4 linked regions of the Homo sapiens genome follow. The protein of the gene in region 3 purifies or fractionates together with the protein of the main gene of each other region. This does not show direct contact. Each region holds a gene or a part of one and is shown on either strand. Other genes may lie near its edges.

Region 1 (2,938 bases), on a different chromosome or scaffold from region 3:
TTTGGCAAAATATTTTTGTAAGACTGATAACCAAGGCTTACTCAAGGTGTGGGGAAACAGGCACTCTTAGACAGTTATTGGGAGTAACACTTGGCAAAACCTTTGGGAAGCCAGCATCTGGTAGCACCTGACAGTAATTCCACTGCCAGAAATCTATTTCTACAGAATTATTTATACGTGAGGCAACATAGAGTAGAACATAAGAGCATGTGAGTGAAACTACCTCCGTTCAAATTCCCACTTTACCACTTTCAAGCTCTATGCTGTTTCCTCATTTAAAAAATAGAAACATCTTCTCAACAGGTCACTATGAGGATTATAGAAAAGGTTCCACACGTGATGGGCTTCGCACAAGACCCAGCACATGATAAATACTCAGTTAATATTACTTATCTACAAACATTTGCCATTTTTGCACAAGGATGTTTACTGTGCCACTGTTCGGCAAAAAACGCAAGCAAGTATAGTATGGTCCTATTTATGTTTTTTAGAAATTACATTTATATTTGTATGTATCTGCCTAGATCTGTAGGAAAAAATAGAGAAAACATGCTAAAGTGTTGCATCCATGGAGCAGGAAGGGAGTGACCTGTTTTTGTACAGTTTTTACTTAAGCAACATGAAGTGTTTCATACTTTAGAGAAAAGAAAAAGTAAAGATCACTATCAATCTTGGGGAGAAAGGGTTAATCTGTATAAGCACACACAAACATTATATTTAAAACATTTATTTTATTATACATATTTAAATTTTAGAAAGTTATTAGGTAGATGTACATTCCTCTGTTGCTTTACTTTGATCTTCAGTTACCTGTAAAAACATGAATAGCTTTACTTTCCTAATAAACACTTTCAGTTTTACCCTTCACCCACCATTTTAAATCATTCCACAGCCCTCTTATAATGACCCTTTATCTTTCCCCTTAAATAGTAGAATAGAAAGTTAGGTAAGAAGAAAGATTTAAAGGCCAAGTAACCAATATAAATTATCAGGTAAAGAACAATAATTCCATTCAAAAATATAATCTAAGGCATATTATACCTAGGCTTCTCAAGTTGGCCATTTTACTTTTCAGCCGTAAAACAAAATCATTAGTGTAAGAAAAAACACCTGAAGTGCTGTAACAAGCTATTTTAAATCAGTTTATTTTCTTTTGGAGTATAATTCCATTTAGAATAGAACATATTACAGATTTAGTCTAAATAGATATCTCTATGTCCCTATTTCTATTCTGTGTCACTCAGACTCATCAAACAGACATGGCTAAATCTGAATTCAACACCCCAAAACCTGTCCTACCTGCATCATCTATCTTGGTAAAGGGCTCCACCCAGATACCTAAGGACAGCATTCAAGAATTCACTCTCTTCTTCCTACCTGCATATTCCATCAACAGTCCTACTAATTCAGCCTAAGTTAACTCTCACAGTCATTCTCCCTATCGCGGCTGAACTTTAGGACCTCATTCTCTTCTATCCCCCTAACAGAACTCTTGGCTTAAGTCACAGCTATATCCCATGCTACCCCTAGAATGAGCTTTTAAACAAGAATAGCTGATCAACAGGTCACTTCCCTACTCAAAATTCTCCAGTTACTCTCTAGCATCTCAGTGGGGTGGAGGAGGAAAGTCAGGAATGCAAGTTCCACAACACGGGACACAAGCCCCTCATATTCTGTTTTTGGACTGACTCTTTACCTATCCTACATGTGACCTGTACATTCAAATTCATCTTACATTCATCATGTTCTCTATGTAGGCAAGTGACTTCCTCTGAGATAACCTCCAACCCATTTTCCAACAGATTATCTGCATGGTCCACTTTTATTCACCCTTTAAAATCAGCTTAAGAGACTCCAATTCCTGGAAGCCTTCCTTAAGCAACTCCCCAGCTTGGTCTGAGTCCTCTTCTTTATGCCAGAGCCCCACATGTACACCTGAACTGTCTGCTTATAAGTCTAATTATCCAATCAACATTACTTCCCTGAGGCAGCAAGTAAATTTTGTGCATTTTTTTGTACCTCCAGACCATAACAGTACCTGGCACACAATAAACAATCAGTAAGTCTGTGTTGCATCAATGAACCACGTTTAATCTAATCCCTTCAGAAAAGCAAAATGGACAGTAGAAAAAAGCAACTAAACCAGAATAAATGTTTGAAAAAATATGTATTGACTAACATCACTAGATATTCTAGGTAAGACACTGTCTCTGCCGTTTTTCTACATTTTTCATTCCTTTAAAGTGTTCAGTTACTACTGCTTCTTTAATTTTCCAAACTATTTCTTTAATATTCTTTAGCTTTTTAAATTTTTTTTAATTTTACTTAACTCCAAGTAAACATGCTGAACATTTTTTCTTTAGTTTCTTCATCTAAAATGATCACTGTGACCAACTAAAAAGAGAAAATTACTCCATCCATTCAAAGGTAATTTCTTCTCATGAGAAAAAAAATTATATAACCCTTACTCAAGAACATTATGGTGAAGTCCCTAAACAATAATTCCTATCTACATAGTCATTAATAAAGACTAGGTTTATATATCATTATGAAAAATTGTCAATAAATATTTCTTGGGTAACCCCTTCATGTGCTAATGTTGTGTTCAAAATTTGGGCTTACACAAATATAACAAATCCTGAAAGGCTTAACAGACAGAAAATAAATGTACTGGCAAAGAAAACAATCAAAAAATAGTATGTGGACATATACAATCAAGCACAAACTTATATGAATAATTATTTGTTAGAGATTACTCTGAGACTGTTCCATGGAGGAGGTACGACTCAGGCGAGGTAGTGAAGAATGACTGCGTAGTAAATAGAAGGAGAATGGGAAATGGAGTCTAGAAAGAAAAACTATCATGAAGAAATAAGCAAACTTGAAAATAAGTTTAATGTGTGATGCTTAATGTGCCTGCAAGCTTAACCAGTGTTTG
Region 2 (3,775 bases), on a different chromosome or scaffold from region 3:
CTCGCTCACCTTCTATTTCCAACATGGCAGCTCTAAGGTATAAGGGTTTCCTGGTTTTTCTTTCTAAGCTTTCTGTTTTGTTTTGAAGGATTTAGAATTTCTGTTGACAGCTGTTTTTAGGGGAAATATATTTAGGGGAGATGTTTTTTAGGGGAAATAGCCATTATCCCAATTGAGCCTTTTTTTTTTTTTTTTTTTTTGAGACGGAGTCTTGCTGTGTCACCCAGGCTGGTGTGCAGTGGCGCAATCTTGACTCACTGCAAACTCTGCCTCCCGGGTTCATGCCATTCTCCTGCCTCAGCCTCCAGCTGGGACTACAGGCGCCTGCCACCATGCCTGGCTGAGTTTTTTTTTTTTTTGTATTTTTAGTAGAGATGGGGTTTCACCGTGTTAGCCAGGATGGTCTCGATCTCCTGACCTTGTGATCTGCCTGCCTTGGCCTCCCAAAGTGCGGGGATTACAGGCGTGAGCCACCGTGCTCAGCCCTGAGCCACTTTTACTAAGATTTCTAAGTTTACCATGTCACATTCTTTCCTGAGTCATATTTTGAAGCTGCCTATGCTTGACCTAAGGTTAGTTGCCTCATTTCTACCACTATGTGGGCAACAGTTTGATGAATATTAATTCCCAAAATACTGTGGCACTATTTTATTTTTGCCTTAATTTATGTTAGTTTTTCTTTTTTTTTTACTTGTTATTTGATATGTAAATGTATCTATTTCTCTATATAGATATATATTTAAATGACCAGATATGTATATCTGGTGCTACAGGGACATTGTTTTGTTGATAAATATATATGTCTGACTATACAGGGACATAGTTTAGAGCTTTTTGAATAATCATTCATTTTCCGAAAAAGAAGATGATCTAAGTTTTAGTTGTAAAAGATGAGTTCTTCTAATAATAATTCTAAATCTTTAGAATATAGTAAAGCACATTGACATGAACCATTTAAATAGCTACTCCTTTTTGAAAAATTTTAATTTCTGACCTGGATTATGCCATGAATGCTCTTCTGTCTGTGGAATTTTTGGAAGTGTCATTGGAGTGTGTGTCATATAAGCCTGCCTTGCTAACTGTGATGTACTCTCTCCTCTGTTTATTTTGCAGTCGTGCTCATTCTCCTGCGTTAGGAGTGCACTCTTTTTCAGGGGTGCAAAGGTTCAACATTTCAAGCCATAATCAGTCTCCAAAGAGACATAGTATTTCTCATTCTCCAAATAGTAATTCTAATGGCTCCTTTCTTGCACCAGAAACGGAGCCAATTGTTCCTGAACTGTGTATTGACCATTTGTGGACAGAAACGATTACTAATATAAGGTTTGTTATATATATTATTATATTCAAAGAAAAATGTTGCTGAAAGTCTTGGGAAATATATGGCATTTTGTTTAAAGTTTCCTTTTAATGTGATCAGTTATTAATATATGTAAAAATATATAGAGATATGTATTAAGGCCACCTCAGTTTCAGTAGAGGATATTAATGATATTAAAGTGATCATAGGCTGGACGTGGTGGTTCATGCCTGTAATCCCAGCACTTTGGGAGGCTGAAGCTGGTAGATCACTTGAGCCTAGGAGTTCGAGACCAGCCTGGCCAACATTGTGAAACCCTGTCTCTACTAAAAATACAAAAATTAACTGGGTGTGGTGGTGCATACTTGTAATCCCAGCTACTCAGGTGGCTGAGGCAGAATTGCTTGAACCCAGGAGGCTGAGCTTGCAGTGAGCTGAGATCGTGCCACTGCACTCCAGCCTGGGTGACAGAGTGAGACTATCTCAAAAAAAAAAAGTCATCATAAAAATATTATTTTGTCATCTGATATTTCTTCCTTTATAGTAATAATCTCTCATTTTTCGGGTGTTTTTTGTTCTGGGGAGAAACAGTTAATTTCCATCCGTGAGGAAATGTGGGGTTTTAGCACGTTTCCTAAGTTTTATGTTCATGTTAGTTGAGTGCCAGCTTTACTTTTTGGGAAACATAGCTTAGATCTCTGTTCTGGGTGACCTTTCTTCTTTTATATTCTCTTTAATAATTCACGTGTTAATTTATATGCCAATGTGTGTGCTAGTTAACAGTCTAATAAGTCACTGTCCCTGTCCTCAAAAGAGGCAGATAGCTGAAGGATGGTGACACAGGAGGGACTACTTTTGCTGGTAGGGCTTTGAAAGACGAATAGGTATTCGCTAGGCAGGGAAGTTGAGAAAGACCACAGACGGCAGCTGGGATCAGAACAAAAGTTCTGGTGAGTGCGTGGTGTATTTAGGGAATTACAAGTACTTCCACTCTGGTTTTTGCAGAGGGGAGGGAAAAGGCTAATGAAGAGGAGGCTTCCTAGGCGCAGTGGCTCACACCTGTAATCACTCACTTTGGGAGGCTGAGGCAGATGGATCACTTGAGCTCAGGAGTTCAAGACCAACCTGCCCAAAATGGTGAAACCCCATGTCTACTACAAATACAAAAATTAGCCAGGCATGATGGCGTGCATCTGTAGTCCCAGCTACTCTGGAGGCTGAGGTGAGAGAGTCATTTGAACCTGGGAGTTGGAGGTTGCAGTGAGCCAAGAGCACACTACTGCACTCCAGCTTGGGCAACAGAGTGAGACTGTCTGAAAAAGAAAAAAAGGAGGCTTGAGAGATTACTGATTGCCCTTTAGGCCTCTGGTATGTTTGATGACAGCGGTAAGAAGGCACTTTATAAGTGTGTCGGAAGTTTGGGAAAGAGCAGAACAATAAATGTGGAATTGTCAGCTTATAGGTGGTGATTGAGGTAAGAGAATTAGATTAGAATTGAAGAATTATTGTATTCAATAATTGTGTGTACATGTAGTATATAGGCCTTTTCCCAAGGAGAGGGTTTTAACATTCCTTAGATTCTCAAAGGGATTTGTGGCCTCCAAATAGTTAAAATCCAGTGGTGTAGAATGAGAAGAGGGCTAGGAACTGAAGTCCTGGAAACTTAAGATTTGGGGAATGGAAAGAGACAAAGCTGGCACAGAGAGACAAAGCAAAAGAGGTCAGATGGGAGAAGCAGCAGGAAATACAGAATACAAAAAAGAACATTTCAAGAATACAGAGATGCCAGTATTGCCAGGTACTGGTGAAGTGTGGCCCTGAGAGTTGAACCCAGAGAGGAGGTACCTGGGTGGCAGTGGGTTCCTTGGTGACCTTGGCCAGAGCATTTTAAGCTGGGAGGGTGGCGGGGGAAAGTGGGGTAGAAAAAGTAAATGGGGACTGAGGAAATGAACATAGGCATACAGACTCTTTAAGGAGTTTGCCTTTGAATAGGAATGAAGATACAAAATTAGAGGGAGTCTTGGTCAAGGAGAGTTTTGTTTTTGCTGAACTATAATAAAATTAGTTTTCATGACATCTTGCCCCAGTATTTTCTTTTTCTTTTTTTTTGAAACAGGGTCTCACTCTGTCACCCAGGTTGGAGTACAGTGAGTGACTCAATCACAGCTCACTGCAGCCTTGGCCTTCTGGGCTCAGGTGATTCCCCAACCTCAGCCTCCCAGATAGCTGGGACTATAAGCACACACCGCCACGCCTGACTAATTTTTTGTAATTTTTGCAGAGAAAGGATTTTGCCGTGATGCCCAGGCTGGTCTCAAACTCCTGGGCTCAAGCAACCTGCTTGCCTCTGCCTCCCAAAGTAATGGGATTACAGGTGTGAGCCACTGTGCCTGGCCCCCAGTATTTTCTAACCTAACCACAATACAAGTTTTATATCCAGTCGAATTGAGAAGGTCTTTTATATACTCTAATGTT
Region 3 (3,775 bases):
TGAATGATGCATCTCTGAGATCAATGAATAAACCTAACTTTCAGTAGTAGAACTTCAAGTAGAAGCACTGAGCCATTACTGCAGTTTTGTGACAAAAATGTCTGTTTTATGATGGAAATGTTTGGGTTTTTATTCCATTTCTTTGTAGAGAGAATTTATTTACTAAATATATGTAAAAATAGTTCATACTTATGTGTATGTCCCATACACATAAAGCAAAGATTTGGTGACTAAAAAGATGATGAGTGCTACAACTGGTAAAGGAATTAATATTTAAAACGAATCTCTAAAGGTTTCAGAAAATCATTAGACTGTTGCCCTGCTCTAAGGTATTCTAAAGGCCTATATTTTAATATGGATATGGACACAACTAAGTTGAAAGAAAGGTGACCTTTGTTTTCATAATGCACTCAGCACCATTCAGCAGTCCTGTGAACAAAGGAGTAAAGGGATAAAAAGGAGAATGGAAAACTTTGTCATTTCCCAAGTCTATGGATATAAAAATATTTCTCTAAATATTTCTCCTTGAGGACAGAGATTGTGAGCTCCTTGAGAACGGTGACAAATAGTAGATATTTAATAAAAGTCTGTTGGCCAAATGAAAAAATGTTACAGTTAGGGTGCTCATTCATCCCACAGCCGTCTATAAATAGGATTTCAAGGAAGCCACTTAATACAATGTGTAGAGTGATTTAGAGAAGAATTCCCTTTTCCCCAGACAGACAGATATAAAAATTGGGTTGATCTACCTCATTACTCTTGCTTTGAGATAGGGTCAGGCTATCATTGGTCAGTTCCTCATCATCAGCACTGTTTCTGCTAAGAACTTTACTCTTCTTCTTCTTGCAACCCCCTTCACTGGCAGGGCTACTATGATCTTCATCATTGCCTTCATCATTCTCGTCTTCATCACTCCCGCTTCCCTCATCTTCATCATCCTCATTGTCTCCATCACTTCCCTCTTTCTGAGACGCAGATCTCCCTTTTCTCTTTACTACAGTAGGTCGCCAATCATTGTCATCCTCACTGTCATAGTCATCCATGTCATTCAGCTCTTCCATGGACACAAAATCCAGAAGTGGTCGGTTTCGTCGAAGGTTCCATTTTTTTGGCTCGCTGACTTGTTCCTCTGTAGCGGTTGTCGTAGTGGGAACAGAAGGGGATGTGTTAACAGCAGGAGGACTTGTGGCTGGTGTGGTGGCAGCAGCAGAAGCAGCCACATTCTCAGATACTGTTGCTTTTTCTTTTTCCTTCTCTCTTTCCTTCTCTTTCTCCTTTTCCTTTTCTTTTTCCTTCTCTTTCTCCTTTTTCTTTCTAGGTCTTTCTCCATTTTCTTCTTCTTCCTTCTTTTCCATTTTAATTAATTGTTTTTCTGATGATAGTACTTCTTCCTCTGCAGAATTTTTAAGTTGTTCTTCTTTTACTTTAATATCTTCATTCAGTTCTTCTTCTAAAATATTTTCTTCAGAATCACTACAGGAACCTTCTCCACTGTCCTTTGAAGCATCTTCACTTCCATTACCACTCCCTTCAGAATCTGTTGAAAATATGAGAAAAAAAAAACCACACATATGTATATACATACACACACACACACACAACGCTGACACAAATGAAACCACCAAAATTTGTGAATAACTTGCAAAACAATATAAACAAATTTAAGTCAAAGAATGGTAGACATTCCCAACCTGATCAAATAATAAATCAATGAAGTTGATACAATGGTTTTAGTTCAGTATAGTGCTAATGAAGATGAATATAGATAACCCTAAATTAAAATATGCTTTAAAAAGAGAAGCACTAATTTGTGTCATATGGCAATATTTGGTACTGAAAAGGCAATTATTTTTTAAAGTAAATGTGCTTCTTTTAAGATTGGGCACTTGATTTTAATTTTACTGATAATACAGACAAAATTCTTCCTCCCTTAAACATCTTTTATAAACTATATGGACTTGTAAGTATTGAGTCAAAACCAAAACAAGATAAATCTAACCCATAAAACTGCTTCATTTATTTTACTCTTTACCCAGTAAAATAAGCATAGATATTTATGATAGTCAACTTATACTACAACTCTAATATACCAAACAAATTTTAGGAATACCAAGAACACAGGTGAAAAGAGACAACAGCAATGGCACAGAAAAAGGAAGTTGCAAGAGAAATTATCAATCTTCCTGTTTATTAGGATACTGTTCGTATCAATAAAAGAAGAGTCACTACACTTTCAAAACTTCTACGCAGTAACTACTATATGCTCTAGAATGGAAGAAATTGATGAATAAAGCAGTCCATCCTGAAAATGAGCAGTCACAGAGGTTACTAAAAAGTTAGGCTGAAGACATTAAAGAGCTCACAGGACTGTAAGCTTTCTAGCAGGTTTCTTCCACTCCTGCCTAGGGCAGCCCAGTCCCTCTCAACCCAACACTACTTAGTAACTCAGTAATCATTACTCAGTAAGTACTCAGTAATCATTCTTTTTGTACCCAATTAAGTAAATAACAATCTAAAATCTTTGAAGCGAGAAATAAATGGGAGGAGGGAAAGAGGACAGGGAGCAGTAGGAGATGGGGAAGAAACCAGTTAAGTCTTAGCCAGTAAAATCCACAGGATGATGAATTTTTTTGCACCTATAGCCAAGAAAAAGGTAATGATAAAATGGTGGAAAAAGTAAAGTGTTTCCACATCATTTTAATTTCTATTAACTCAACTAGGCTTAACCTCTGTAATTAACTAAGCACTAAAATTGAAGGAAGCTGTCTGTAATTAGTATCTGGTATCTAGTGAACCCCACAAGTCACATACAAATGACTGCTAACAAAAACATCCTGCAAGCAAAATTGCATAAAAAATAAACACTAACATTTAACAGATACTGACTGACCCTATGAAATCATTATCAATCTCACAACTGTCATGTAGGTATCCATAGCTTACTTGGGACTGTTCTGAAAAAAACACTCTTATCCTAAACAACCTTGCATAGGATACAAGAGCAATATCATACGGGTCAGCAATTCCCTATCTGAAACTTTAAGAACCAGATGTGTTTCAGAATTCATAATTTCTCAGATTTTCAAGGGTAACATGGAACATGCACCATATATTACACTAATACCCCCAGTGAAGTCCATGGTATTATCCTATAATCAAACATTATTTCTGCGGAGAAAAGTATAAATCCTATTTACAGAGTATGAGAAATAAATACTACAAATAAACTCCTACCAGTTCCGTTAGGCTTTGCCATCAAGTAAGTTTGTGTGAACCTTACAAAACACTTGGATTTTTAAGCTTCTTGGATTTCAAGAGTGTGGACCCAATATTACTCACAAACAAGTGACTTCTTTTCAGTCTCTAAAGCATTAAGAAAATTATGATTTTGTAAACCACTCACAGCAATTAAACCCAACCTACCAAGAAAAATCACATCTGGTAAAAATAACAATAATAGTAATCTCTTGACATTTTAAAATTATGATTTAATAAATAATAACCAGAGTTGACTCAACACTTCTAAGACACAGAAAGATTTTTTATGCACACTGACTAAAGAAAACTGAAACACCTTAGGCTCTAGAAGGGAAGCAATGCCATAATTAAGAGAGCTAGGAGATGAAGATGAAAGAAAAGGTACTTTTCTTCTGGATCAACCTTCTAGAAGGCTTTTTATCAATCAAAACTTCACGATAGACGCAAAAGTAAGATTAACTGGGGCAGAAGTGTGGGTAGCTGATCAAAATTGAGACCAATCCAACTTTGCTATTAC
Region 4 (3,775 bases), on a different chromosome or scaffold from region 3:
TTTCTGCTTGAAACATGGAGCCCACCATAATCTCCTATTTTAAAAATAACATAAAACATTAGTAAGATCTAGTAACAGATTTTATATCCATTTTCTAGCCTTACCATCTTAGTAAACTGTTCCTGGTTTCTCTGTCATAAAATACAAAAACAACCAATTAACTACCTCAGAGGTACCTTTGTGAAGATGAATGACAAATAATGACTGGATGAAAATATTAGTAATAATACTGAGGTGAAATGCAACGTAAACAATAAATACAAACTTTATTTCAAAATATAGAGACAAAGAAGTGAATTCTGATAATTCCATTAGTAAGACAACTGCAAAACATGTAAAACACAAAGTCAAATTCAGATATTTTCAGAGTATCTACACTTAAGACAGTGGTCTTAAATATGATCCCTATATGAGCAGCATCAGTGTCATCTATGAAATTTTTGTTTTTTTGAGACAGGGTCTTGCTCTGTCACCTAGGCTGGAGTGATCATGGCTCACTGCAGCCTCGACCTCCCAGGCTCAAGCAATTCTCTCACCTCAGTCTCTGAGTAGCTGGGACTACAGGCACATGCCACCACACACAGCTAATGGGAAACTGTTAGAAATGCAAATGCTCAGGTCCCACCCCAAACCTACTGAAACTCTGGGGACAGGACTCAGTCATTGGTATTTTAACAAGCTCTCTAGGTGATTCTGACATAGACTGAAGTCTGAAAAACAGAGCTTCAAAGTAGGAAAAATAACAAAAAGGGTTTGTATAAAGCTCAGTAGGGGCCAAATGAAAGAAACTCTAAATGAAATAGATAAGCAGGTTATGGCTTGACTTTCATTAAAACAATACAAAATGAAAAAGTAACCTCCTCCCACAAATATAATTAAATAGGAAATCCAGTAATCATATCTATACAGTCAAATCACAGATTAGGTGAAACTGGATGTTCTCAAAAGCAACTGCAAACTACCACTGGTGAAATTTCACAATGCAAGGAGACCAAGATTACATGAACCCTCTTTTGTGTGATGGCTAAATGTTAAGAACACATTTACTGACATTTTCAAAATTGGGCATGAAAGGTACAAAATCATGGTCTAGAAGTTTTGGTAACTCTTAGGATTTGGAAAGTCTCTCTCCTGCTATTGTTACCTCACTGATGTGAGGAGCTCATTTTATCCAGTACAACTTCAAAGACGTGCTTTATGTAATAAAGTTATTTCTATACCCATAAGAAAAACCAATCTTTCTCATGATCAGTTTTCTAAAAAGAATCAAACTTACAACAAATTTTCTCTACCCTTACAATGGAATTCTCTTTATGTCTTCTACTATAAAAAGAGTCCTTTATTGTCACATCTTGTGCCTCTTTTAACTTAACTCACCTAGGCCTACCAAAGAACATTGTCAAGTTACTAACCCTGGCTGGGGTGCTTCTAAACCATCAATGCCTGGATCCACTGCAGGACAATTAAATTAGAATCTATGAATGAAGGCCCTGGTAGTCAGTACATCTAAGTTATCCAAATGATTCTAACATAAAAACAGGGTTGAGAACATCTGGATTAGTTTAAAGATAGGTACTTCCTTTTTCCTGTTCAGTTCTGAACATTTCTTTTCATCTGTTAATTTGTTCGGTAGTACAGGGAAGGGAAGGGAAATAGCTTTGAAGATCATTATGTGTTAACATATCATATATGCAATTTTCCTTTAATCTTTCAGCAAGCCCCATAAGGCTGACATTGTTATTCCCATACTATATGTAAGAAGATGAAGCTCAAAAATTTGATTTTCTCAGGAGCACACAATTACTAAGTTCTAGAGCTACAACTAAAATTCAGGTTTGACTTCAAAACTGTTTCCCCTACCTTAAGTTTCTATAAAAACTCAATTTCATCTTATAAGTCTTAAAAAAAAATGAATCTCTGAACCTTGACAATTATTTAAAACAACAAAATCATACTGAAAGAAAACAATCTGCATTTACTCTGGCCTGCTTTATTACATAATTTTTTTCTGAGAAAGGTGTGGTTAATTAATACCCTTTCTGAGTAAGGTGTGGGTAATTAATACCCTCCAGCAATGAGAGGTGTTCTACCTCTGAGCTTTTGTTCTTTCATTTAAAAAAAAAACACTGAATGCTTAATCAAATACTCTACTGAACACTCCAGATTAAAAAACAACACATGTTGAAGATACATAAACTTGAATATGAAGTGGGACAGCAATTTATAAGGACTCCCAAGGTTTCTAGCTTTTTTCATCTTAATTTCTGCACACTGTAGGAATCAGATTAAAAACAGGATGAAAGAACCCTTGCCCAAATAGGCCACACAAATTAACTTTTGTGATTCTTGTTTTCTGTCGAGTCCCATCATTTGCTCAAATTAACACATACCGTAAACTGGGCTAACCTTGTCTCTCAACAAAAATAACATTATTTCTTTGTTTTAACCAGTTCTACATAAAAAATTTTTTTGAAGACATGGGGTCTCACTATGTTGCCCAGCCTGGTCTCAAACTCCTGGGCTGAAGTGATTCTCCCTACCTCAGCCTCCCAAGTAGCTGGGACAACAGGGGAAACATCACTGCAACCAGCTAATTCTACATAATGTTTAGATAGATTTTTCCTAAGAGCTCAGTTCTTTTACAATAACTTACAATTCTTTAACTTAACTGTATGATTAATTATATGCTATATAATTTTATAATTAAAAACTAATCTCAATATATTATCTTTAGATTCATTTCAGAAATTAATTGTATATAGTTACGAAGAAGCCAAATCTGTTTCTTCATATAATAAGCTTATCAGTTGTAAATGTCAACATTAAATTCAATCATTTGGAGAGTTTTTCTTTTATAAAGTAATACAGAATGAAAAACTTGCAATATGAACTACTAAACAAAATTTACTTAACAAATATCAAAGCCTCCACAAATGCTTTCCATAATATTGAAAAACATATACGTGATACTTTTTACAGGGCAACAAATGCCTAATTTGGCACTAGTTCAGGACTAAATCAGAAATGTGGATTTCTGTTTTATTTATTTTTTGTTTTGTTTTATAAAATGAGACAGGGTCCCGCAACGCTGCCCAGGCTGGTCTCGAACTCCTGGGCTCAAGCGATCCGCCTGCCTCAGCCTCCCAAGTGCTGGGATAACAGGCGTGAGCCACCACACCCCGCCAGAAATGTAGATTTCTAATCTAACCTAGATGTGTTAAGAAGGAATCTGAACATTTACCAAACATTTAAATGTCATAAAAGGGCTTACATCGATTTTATCAATATACATAGTTAGTAAAAAAAAAAATAATTACACGAGGCTTTTTAAAAAAATATTAATTTATCTAAATTTTGGGAAAATATTGTTCTAACTACCTTTTTCCAGTCTTCTGATGGAATATAATCTTCATCTTCTTCAGATTCTTCTTCTACTTCACTATCTAGAATAAATAAGACACCAATACTATAAAATGACTGCTTATCCTGTCTAAATCTACATATTATTTTTACATCTACCATCAAATATTTGGATATGCTCAAAGATATCTAATGAATTAAGCCAAGATATTTCTAACCAAATAATTAACACCCTATCACTTAAAAAAACAAAACCAAAAAAACCATAAACTTTCTACATAATTGTATTCTCATGAAATGATTTCCTATAAAAACTTAGGGGAAAAAACTGATTTAGAATAAAGATAATATTATCTTACTACATATTTCATGACAGTTTATTTTTCTTCAAGTGTTTTTCTTCCTTTTAAAGTAG

The links.
Region 1: the proteins of PHF14 (region 3) and MRPL39 purify together in Homo sapiens (affinity purification with mass spectrometry, with the first as the bait; one large-scale study listed by BioGRID). This does not show direct contact.
Region 2: the proteins of PHF14 (region 3) and ANAPC1 fractionate together in Homo sapiens (co-fractionation; one large-scale study listed by BioGRID). This does not show direct contact.
Region 4: the proteins of PHF14 (region 3) and MIER1 purify together in Homo sapiens (affinity purification with mass spectrometry, with the first as the bait; one large-scale study listed by BioGRID). This does not show direct contact.

What each region holds. Positions count from the first base shown.
Region 1 is NC_000021.9:25,584,945-25,587,882, forward strand, and holds the end of MRPL39 (large ribosomal subunit protein mL39), read right to left. Parts: intron 2,846-2,938; coding exon of another isoform or gene 2,753-2,845; exon of another isoform or gene 2,666-2,752; intron 811-2,665; coding exon 763-810; 3' UTR 712-762; downstream 1-711.
Region 2 is NC_000002.12:111,859,937-111,863,711, reverse strand, and holds part of ANAPC1 (anaphase-promoting complex subunit 1), read left to right. Parts: coding exon 1-37; intron 38-1,113; coding exon 1,114-1,323; intron 1,324-3,775. UniProt on the Homo sapiens protein: Component of the anaphase promoting complex/cyclosome (APC/C), a cell cycle-regulated E3 ubiquitin ligase that controls progression through mitosis and the G1 phase of the cell cycle.
Region 3 is NC_000007.14:10,980,134-10,983,908, reverse strand, and holds part of PHF14 (PHD finger protein 14), read right to left. Parts: intron 1,538-3,775; coding exon 750-1,537; intron 1-749. UniProt on the Homo sapiens protein: Histone-binding protein. Binds preferentially to unmodified histone H3 but can also bind to a lesser extent to histone H3 trimethylated at 'Lys-9' (H3K9me3) as well as to histone H3 monomethylated at 'Lys-27' (H3K27ac) and trimethylated at 'Lys-27' (H3K27me3).
Region 4 is NC_000001.11:66,959,347-66,963,121, reverse strand, and holds part of MIER1 (mesoderm induction early response protein 1), read right to left. Parts: intron 3,444-3,775; coding exon 3,379-3,443; intron 35-3,378; coding exon 1-34. UniProt on the Homo sapiens protein: Transcriptional repressor regulating the expression of a number of genes including SP1 target genes. Probably functions through recruitment of HDAC1 a histone deacetylase involved in chromatin silencing.